2 separate regions of the Homo sapiens genome follow, and region 2 is linked to region 1. Evidence: fine-mapped expression QTL. A gene starts in region 1. The other region holds a variant in brackets. All regions are shown on one strand. Distances are from middle to middle. Region 1 holds the start of RBM6 (RNA binding motif protein 6). Region 2 overlaps RBM6 (RNA binding motif protein 6).

The links. PIP is the estimated chance that this variant, and not a neighbour inherited with it, causes the effect.
Region 2: its variant is the best candidate, but not a certain one, in a credible set for the expression of RBM6 in blood mononuclear cells (TOPMed, PIP 0.68).

The regions. Positions count from the first base shown.
Region 1 is chr3:49,937,938-49,942,201 of GRCh38, reverse strand. It overlaps RBM6 (RNA binding motif protein 6), which reads right to left and starts at 2,052. Exons shown (of 21, transcript NM_005777.3): 1 at 1,977-2,052. RefSeq lists a silencer at 1,622-1,821 and enhancers at 1,378-1,899, 1,962-2,021, 2,052-2,101, 2,132-2,191, 1,900-2,422.
Region 2 is chr3:50,055,194-50,059,457 of GRCh38, reverse strand. It overlaps RBM6 (RNA binding motif protein 6), which reads right to left. Exons shown (of 21, transcript NM_005777.3): 9 at 1,455-1,730; 10 at 896-1,056. Among named protein-coding and RNA genes, the nearest start is that of RBM5, 32 kb to the left of the region's middle. The variant A/G (reference allele first, on the strand shown) is at 1,782.

The DNA of each region.
Region 1 (4,264 bases):
TATACTTAACAATGGTTTAAAGAGCAAATTTTGTTAAAATATACATAAACATACATAAAAATATATATTTACCACAATTTATTTAATTGATTTTTTTTTTTTTGAGACAGTCTTGTTCTGTGGCCCAGGTTGGAGTGCAGTGGCACTATCTCCCCTTACTACAACCTCTACCTCCCCGGCTCAAGCGATTTTTCCATCTCAGCCTCCTGAGTAGTTAGGGCTAACAGGAGCATGCCACCACGCCTGGCTAATTTTTTTTTTTTGTATTTTTTGTAGAGACAGGGTTTTGCGATGTTGCCCAGGCTCACAATTTGTTTTAGAAATACTATAACAGGGCCGGGCACGGTGGCTCACGCCTGTAATCCCAGCACTTTGGGAGGCCAAGGCAGGTGGATCACCTGAGGTCAGTAGTTCAAGACCAGCCTGGCCAACATAGCGAAACTCCGCCTCTACTAAAAAAATACAAAAAATTAGCTGGGCATAAGGCGAAACGCTGCCTCTACTATGTTGGTTTTTGTTGAGTTTTGCGGGTTTTTTTTTTTTTTTTTTTTTTTTTTTTTTGAGACAGAGTTTCACTCTTGTGGCCCAGGCTGGAGTGCAATGGAGCAATCTCAGCTCACCGCAACCTCCGCCTCCCAGGTTCAAGCGATTCTCCTGCCTCAGCCTCCCAAGTAGCTGGGATTACAGGCATGTGCCACCATGCCCGGCTAATTTTGTACTTTTAGTAGAGACGCGGTTTCTCCATGTTAGTCAGGCTGGTCTCGAACTCCCCACCTCAGCCTCCCAAAGTGCTGGGATTACAGGTGTGAGCCACCAGGCTCGGCCTGGTAATAGAATTCTATAAGGAAAGGTGCTACAACTATCCAGAGAGACCTGGGACCTGTCCTGCAGGTTAGGTATCTAGTTAGATGCTAGTTTCTGAGACAAGGTTCAAATTCAACTTTTGTGTTTCACCAAAATGGTAACATATTATTTAGTTACTTTCTTCACTGCCAGTCCTACCATCACGCACCAGCTCTTGACACCTCTCGTTAGAGACCTCACAAATTCAGTAATGGTGACATATTTAAATCATTCACGCTGGTGGCATTTCTCAATAGGAAGGTGGAAACTAGCAAGCCGAGGGCACAATCCAGGGTTCAGAAAATGAACCAGGTGACCATGTCTGCATGTCTACTGAACTCCTTCACTTAAATCCGGCTACTCTGACCTTCACAAGCAAACCTGGAATATGCAAAAAATACAATTACGCTCACGGTTTATGTACCCTACGAAACAGGGCCCTTCCTTCAAAAAAAAAAAAAAAAAAAAGGCATTCCCAAAGTTGAACCCATTCGCCTAACGTCAATTCTAAAATAAAGAGAAAAACATCTATTTACACCGCTAATGGAATCTAAAGCGTGAATACGATAAAACATCCTTCTCCTTCATTGCCTAACGGGCGCAGAACCCACCAGACCACTCTCCCGCTTCCAGGTTCTACCGCCCCGACGACCGGGCTCGGAGCTCTTGTGCCCTCCGGTCCAGCGGAGCCTCCCTTGTGTCTGTCCAAGTCTGAGGACGAGGCTACGTGCTAAGCACAAGAGCTCCCTTCCTAGTGATGCCACAGAATTGGATCTGAAACAGGAAAACCGCAAGAACAGCCCGCTTACAGCTCCGAAGAGTAGGAGCACAGAGCCGCAACCACGCGCCGGCCCCAGCCTCACAGCTGGCCGCTCCGCGGCGGGACCGGTAATCTACTGCCGCGCCGGGCCCCGCCCCAGGCCCGCGACGGTTCCGGGGCGTTCCTGCCACGGGCGGCGCCTCCCTCATCTCACCGTTGCTTGGTCTTCTTCCCGAGCGAGGCCGCAGCCGCCCCGCGACACTGAAGCCACAGCTTTCAGGCTGCGCGGGCCTGCGATGTCTAGAGCGGGCCTGTCTGCTGGCTATTCCCTGGCAGGCTCTGGCACGCCTCCCCTCCAGTCCCGGGCCCTTACCTAGGCGGCGAAGCCTCCACGGCCCGCTCCTCCTTCTCCTCAGCCTCCGCCACCGACCCAGCGCCGCGGACACCGGAACTTCCTCCGCGCGGGGCCACTGCTACCACAAAGGCGCCGCGCCGCTGCCTTCAGCGCTCGGCCCGCTGGGAGATGAAGTACAGCTGCCGGTCCCGCAGACTCTTACTCCCGCCGTGCCCCGCGCGCAGGGGACTTGCCTTCTGGGGTGGGTCGTAAGAGCACGCTGTCCATCGCCATCCAATAAGAAGGCGCGCTTACCCGCCCTACTCCGCGTGACCTGCTGGGAGTTGTGGTTTGGCCTCTGCCCTGTGACACCTGGTCCTCTTGTGCTTTCCTCTCAGTTGATTGAGGCTTACAGTTTTTTGGTGGCTTGACTTTCCTGAGGTTTGCTCCCTGCCAGCAGCTCGGGTACGGCCCTGGCCTGCCTAGCTCGAGGCCTCCTTATTGTCCGTTAGTGTGAGAGAAATGGAAGGGAGCTTCTTCGGGAGTAAGTTTAAGCCATCTCCAGCTGGTTGGCGGGGCGCGGTGGCTCACGCCTGTAATCCCAGCACTTTGGTAGGCCGCGGCGAGTGGACCACCTGAGGTCAGGAGTTCTAGACCAGCCTGGCCAACATGGTGAAACCCCATCTCTACCAAAAATACAAAAATTACCCGGGCTTGGTGGCAGGTGCCTGTAATCCCAGCTACTCGGGAGGCTGAGGCAGGAGAATCACTTAAACCCGGGAGGCAGAGGCAGAGGTTGCAGTGAGCCGACACTGTGCCACTGCACTCCAGCCTGGACAATAGAGCAAGACTCCACCTCAGAAAAAAAGAAAGAAAGAAAAAGGCCGGGCGCAGTGGCTCATGCTTGTAATCCTAGCACTTTGGGAGGCCGAGGTGGGTGGATCACGAGGTCAGGAGTTCAAGACCAGCCTGGCCAAGATAGTGAAACCCCATCGCTACTAAAAATACAAAAAGTAGCCAGGCGTGGTGGCGCATGCCTGTAATCCCAGCTACTCAGGAGGCTGAGGCAGAGAATTGCTTGAACCCGGGAAGCACAGGTTGCAGTGAGCCGAGATCGCGCCACTGCACTGTTGCCTGGCAACAGCGCAAGACTCCGTCTCAAAAGAAAGAAAGAAAGAAAGAAGTTGGGCGCAGTGGCTCACGACTGTAATCCCAGCACTGTGGGAGGCCGAGGCGGGTGGATCACGAGGTCAGGAGATCAAGACCATCCTGGCTAACACGATGAAACCCTGTCTCTACTAAAAACACAAAAAATTAGTGGAGCGTGGTGGCGGGCACCTGTAGTCCCAGCTACTCAGGAGGCTGAGGCAGGAGAATGACGTGAACCCGGGAGGCGGAGCTTGCAGTGAGTCGAGATAGCGCCACTGCACTCCAGCCTAGGCGACAGAGGGAGACTGTCGCAAAAAAAAAAAAAAATTACCCGGGCTTGGTGGCAGGCGCCTGTAATCCCAGCTACTCGGGAGGCTGAGGCAGGAGAATCACTTAAACCCGGGAGGCAGAGATTGCAGTGAGCCTAGACTGTGTCACTGCACTCCAGCCTGGACAATAGAGCAAGACTCCGTCTCAGAAAAAAGGAAAGAAAGAAAGAGGCCGGGCGCAGTGCCTCACGCTTGTAATCCTAGCACTTTGGGAGGCCGAGGCGGGTGGATCACGAGGTCAGGAGTTCAAGACCAGTCTGGCCAAGATGGTGAAACCCCGTCTCTACTAAAAATACAAAAATTACCCGGGCGTGGTGGCGCATGCCTGTAATCTCAGCTACTCAGGAGGCTGAGGCAGAGAATTGCTTGAACCCGGGAGGCGGATGTTGCCGTGAGCCGAGATCGCGCCACTGCACTCCAGCCTCACAACAGAGCAAGACTCCGTCTCAAAAAAGAAAAAGAAAGAGGTTGGGCGCAGTGGCTCACGCTTGTAATCCCAGCACTTTGGGAGGCCGCGGCGGGCGGATCACGAAGTCAGGAGATCGAGACCATCCTGGCTAACACGGTGAAACCCTGTCTCTACTAAAAATACAAAAAATTAGCCGAGCGTGGCGGCAGCCGCCTGTAGTCCCAGCTACTGGGGAGGCTGAGGCAGGAGAGTGGCATGAACCCGGGAGGCGGAGCTTGCAGTGAGCCGAGATTTGCGCCACTGCACACCAGCCTGGGCGACAGAGCAAGACTCCGTCTGAAAAAAAAGAAAGAAAGAAAAGGGGCTGATGGCCGTGCACCCACAGAAGGCCCTGGCTCCTGGCCCTCCCAGCCCTTCTACCTGAAACCTGACAATAGGTA
Region 2 (4,264 bases), 120 kb before region 1:
TTGGAACAGGAATCAGAATAGATGTCAGTTCTGGCATAAACTTCAGAAATTCAAATCCTCTTCTTTTAGGTTGCAATTATCATCAATCAGATTCAGTTTACAAAGTCCCTTGTGACTTTTGAGCATGAAAAATCTAAGAAATACCAATGACTTTCATTATCTTCACCTTACTTCCATAGAAAAAGGCCCCGCAACTAAAAATTTAAGCCACAGGAATCTATAAATACTTTGAGGAAAAAGAGGAAATGTTTTATCATCAAATATAAAACCATCTGTGGCTGGACAAAATAAATCAGAAAGTTCACTAAAATCATGAAGGATTCAGTACTCAGATTCTTCACAAGCGAGTAAGTTGGAAACAGTAAATGACACAAGAAAAAAATGAACCTAGAAAACCAGACGGGATCCTAACTTTTGAGGGCTGTCACCTGACCTGAATGAACAATAAACCCAAAGGAGAGAGCAAGAGGGATTATGATATCAGGTAGCACACAAGAATTCAAATGATCAAGAAGTCCCTCAAATTTTTTTTTTTTTTTTTTGAGACAGAGTCTCGCTCTGTCACCCAGGCTGAAGTGCAGTGGCGCGATCTCGGCTCACTGCAAGCTCCGCCTCCGGAGTTCACGCCATTCTCCTGCCTCAGCCTCCCGAGTAGCTGCGACTACAGGCGCCTGCCACCACGCCCAGCTAATTTTTCTGTATTTTTTAGTAGAGACAGGGTTTCACCGTGTTAGCCAGGATGGTCTTGATTTCCTGACCTCGTGATCCACCCACCTCGGCCTCCCAAAGTGCTGGGATTACAGGCGTAAGCCACCAGGCCCGGCCCCCAGTCAAACCTTCTTGAAGGTTCTTTAGCCATCTGTCTCTAGGCCAATCCAAGGTGGAGGAAACTCACCGCATGGGAGTCGAGGTCAATAAAGCCATAGGTATGCCCCATAGGGCCTGTTCTGTTCTTGATGATACGGACGTTGGCAGTAGTAAGGCGGACATAGGGCTCCAGCACTTCCACTATCACCTCAGGTGGTGTGGAACGATAGATACGCTTTAGCATGATAGCTGAATCAACCATAAATGGGAGAAGGGCAACACAAGGGAGAGAAAGATAAATTTTTGAAGTCCCAAGAATCTGACTGTCATTTTTTACTATAGATGCTACTAGCAAGGCTGGTTCTGTAAAAAAATGCTAAACAAATAAATACTGCATACTTTTCTTCACCAATACTTAGAAATCTAAAATCATGCCTTACTGCATTCATATAGCAATTTACTATTTGAAGGGCATAGATTCCTTTAAGCAGTACAGGAAGGTCCACAGACAGCAATGGCCTCTGTCATCAGGTCATGCACAGATCTCTCAGGGTACTGGAAAGCAGATAGCTCCCGGACATAACATTGGCCATCTATGCTCCATTGTGATGATCACAGTCTGGTATGTGCCCTGACAAACTACTTACTTTTGCTCTCTCCATCCTGGCGTGTCTCTCCAGACCATGACTCCCTCTCTCGGTCTCTTCGGAAAGTTGGCCCTTCCCTTCGAGAAGGAGGCAGATACCTTTCTGCTTCTCTCTTTTGATGTCCTAAGCGTGACTCTTGGCCTTCTTCCCTCTTCCTGGGTTCAGGTTCCTTATCAGCTGGTCTTAGGGGCTGGTTGGGCTGTTTTTCCAATGGTGCTGGTATGGATGTTTTCTGAGGCTGAGGGTAGGTTATTAATTCTTGCTTGGCCTCTGTCACTAGTGGAACAGAAACAAAGAGAATCTCTAGAAAGCTTTATCAAAAAAAAA[A/G]AAAAAGAAAAAACACTGCTACTGTAATTTCTCCTTACCTGCCAGCAAATACTCATACTGGAATGCCTTTTTTTTTTTTTTTTTTTTTTGAGACGGAGTTTTGCTCTTGTTGCCCAGCTGAAGTGCAATGGCATGATCTTGGCTCACTGCAACCTCTGCCTCCCGGGTTCAAGCGATTCTCCTGCCTCAGCCTTCAGAGTAGCTGGGATCACAGGTGCCCACCACCACGCCCAGGTAATTTTTTGTATTTTTAGTAGAAACGAGGTTTCACCATGTTGGCCAGGCTGGTCTCGAACTCCTGACCTCAGGTGATCCACTTGCCTCGGCCTCCCAGAGTGCTGGGATTACAGGTGTGAGCAAACACGCCCGGCCTGGAATGCTTTTAATATTATCTCAGAAATATCTAATAAAAAGTCCTCTGACAGTTCCTGACAAAATATTTTAAGTGAAGCTGAGACAGGACATGAAATAGTTCACAGAAGAAACTATCCAAGCATTTAAAAAATGTAATCTTATGAAATCTCTATATCACCTACTAAACATTTAAATATAACAAATCCTTCATGACACCTTGAACCTGACTATCATAATCAATGATAACAACACATCTGGGGACAAAATTACCGAAGATATGGCCCTTACTTAAGGTTTAGTAGAAACACATATCCCAAACACACATCTAGAAGCCTTGCTTCTTCCAGTGTTACAGTGCTCAAACAGCTACTCATATCCTGTAAGACCACAGGCCCTCCTCCAGTGAAGCTAGGAACAGACCCTATCTGCACGTAGCTCCTTTATATGCAAATAAACATAATGGGCAGACGTCCTTCAAAATATAAATGATTTATTTCAAATGTCCTACTACAGCAGGATAATTTGTCTTTATAGTTTGTTTTATAATTAGGGGCACATTCTTGTAACTAATTCATTCTTGGAGGGTTCACTGGAATCCATGTGGCTCAAAAAGAGGTATTATATGAGAGCAATATAGAGATTACATAATAGCAGTGACAGGTTTCCAGATTAAAGCTGTCTCATCTTAGTGGTATGGTGCCCAGTGGTTTTCATACACTATCTATTCATGGCCGGGAGCGGTGGCTCACGCCTGTAATCCCAGCACATTGGGAGACTGAGGCGGGCAGATCACGAGGTCAGGAGATCGAGACCATCCTGGCTAACACAGTGAAACCCTGTCTCTACTGAAAATACAAAAAATTAGCTGGGCACGGTGGCGGGTGCCTGTAATCCCAGCTACTTGGGAGGCTGAGGCAGGAGAATGGCGTGAACCTGGGAGGCAGAGCTTGCAGTGAGCCGAGATTGCGCCACTGCACTTCAGCCTGGGTGACAGAGCAAGACTCCGTCTCAAAAAAAAAAAGAAAAAAAACAAAAAACTATCTATTCATTTGCTGGAATAGCTTTGAAAAAAAGTGTTTCTTGTGGGGGGAAAAAAACACAACTTTGCCTAACCTGAAGTGACCTAACAAGCAAAAATCTCAGTTGTTCATCCTCCTTCCCACATTTTGGTTTGGTTTCTAGAACATACACAGCCTTCCCCTAAAGATTTTCAGAACACCTGCCTTTCAGTCTTCACCAGAGTAAAATCTCCACAAGAGGACAAAAGCCCACCTAAGAAACTCCTTGTAGGCACATTAAACTCTAACCTTGCAACAAACAGAAGGCTACCTGAATCCCTGCACTGAACTATATTTTATGGTCATGCTGTGGCTTTCCTTAAGGGATGACTACAGGACTGTTGTTATGGATGCATGTGTCTGACTCTTCGAAGTTGCCTACCTGAAATTTCTCTAAAGAAATTTACATTAAAGATAAGTGCTTGAGAAGCTGGTAGTTTTATTCCTCTAAAATAATAAAATGTTCCCCACATCCTGATTATTTTCTCCTATTTATGTTTTTACTGTTATTTTAACAAATGTTTTTCTCTTGAAAATCCTGAAATGCTTACAGAATGTAAAAGAGAAAACAATAGAGCAAATGATTCCCAATAACTTCAAAGAAGTAGGAGTGGGAGAAAGGTTTGCCACACAGACTGATGTCATAAAGACTCTTTTTCAACCTAACATCCTTAATCCTTAAATGTATTCCAAATAACAATATACTGACCTCTGCTCAGCTGCCCACTTAGCCACTTTAGCCTAGGAGCCCACAACCCTATCTCTTTCCTCTGGTGAAAATAAGATCTGAAATCATTTACTAACAGGTTACGTTAAGTTGGGCACCAAACTGCAATTTTTTTTTTCTCACTCTGTTGCCTAGGCTGGAGTGCAGTGGCGAGATCTCAGCTCACTGCAACCTCTGACTCCTGGGTTCAAGCGATTCTAGTGTCTCAGCCTCCCAAGGAGCTGGGATTCCAAGCATGTGCCACCACACCTGTGGCTAATTTTTGTAATTTTAGTAGAGACAGGGTTTCGGCATGTTGGTCAGGCTGGTCTTGAACTCCTGACCACAGGTGATCCACCTGCCTT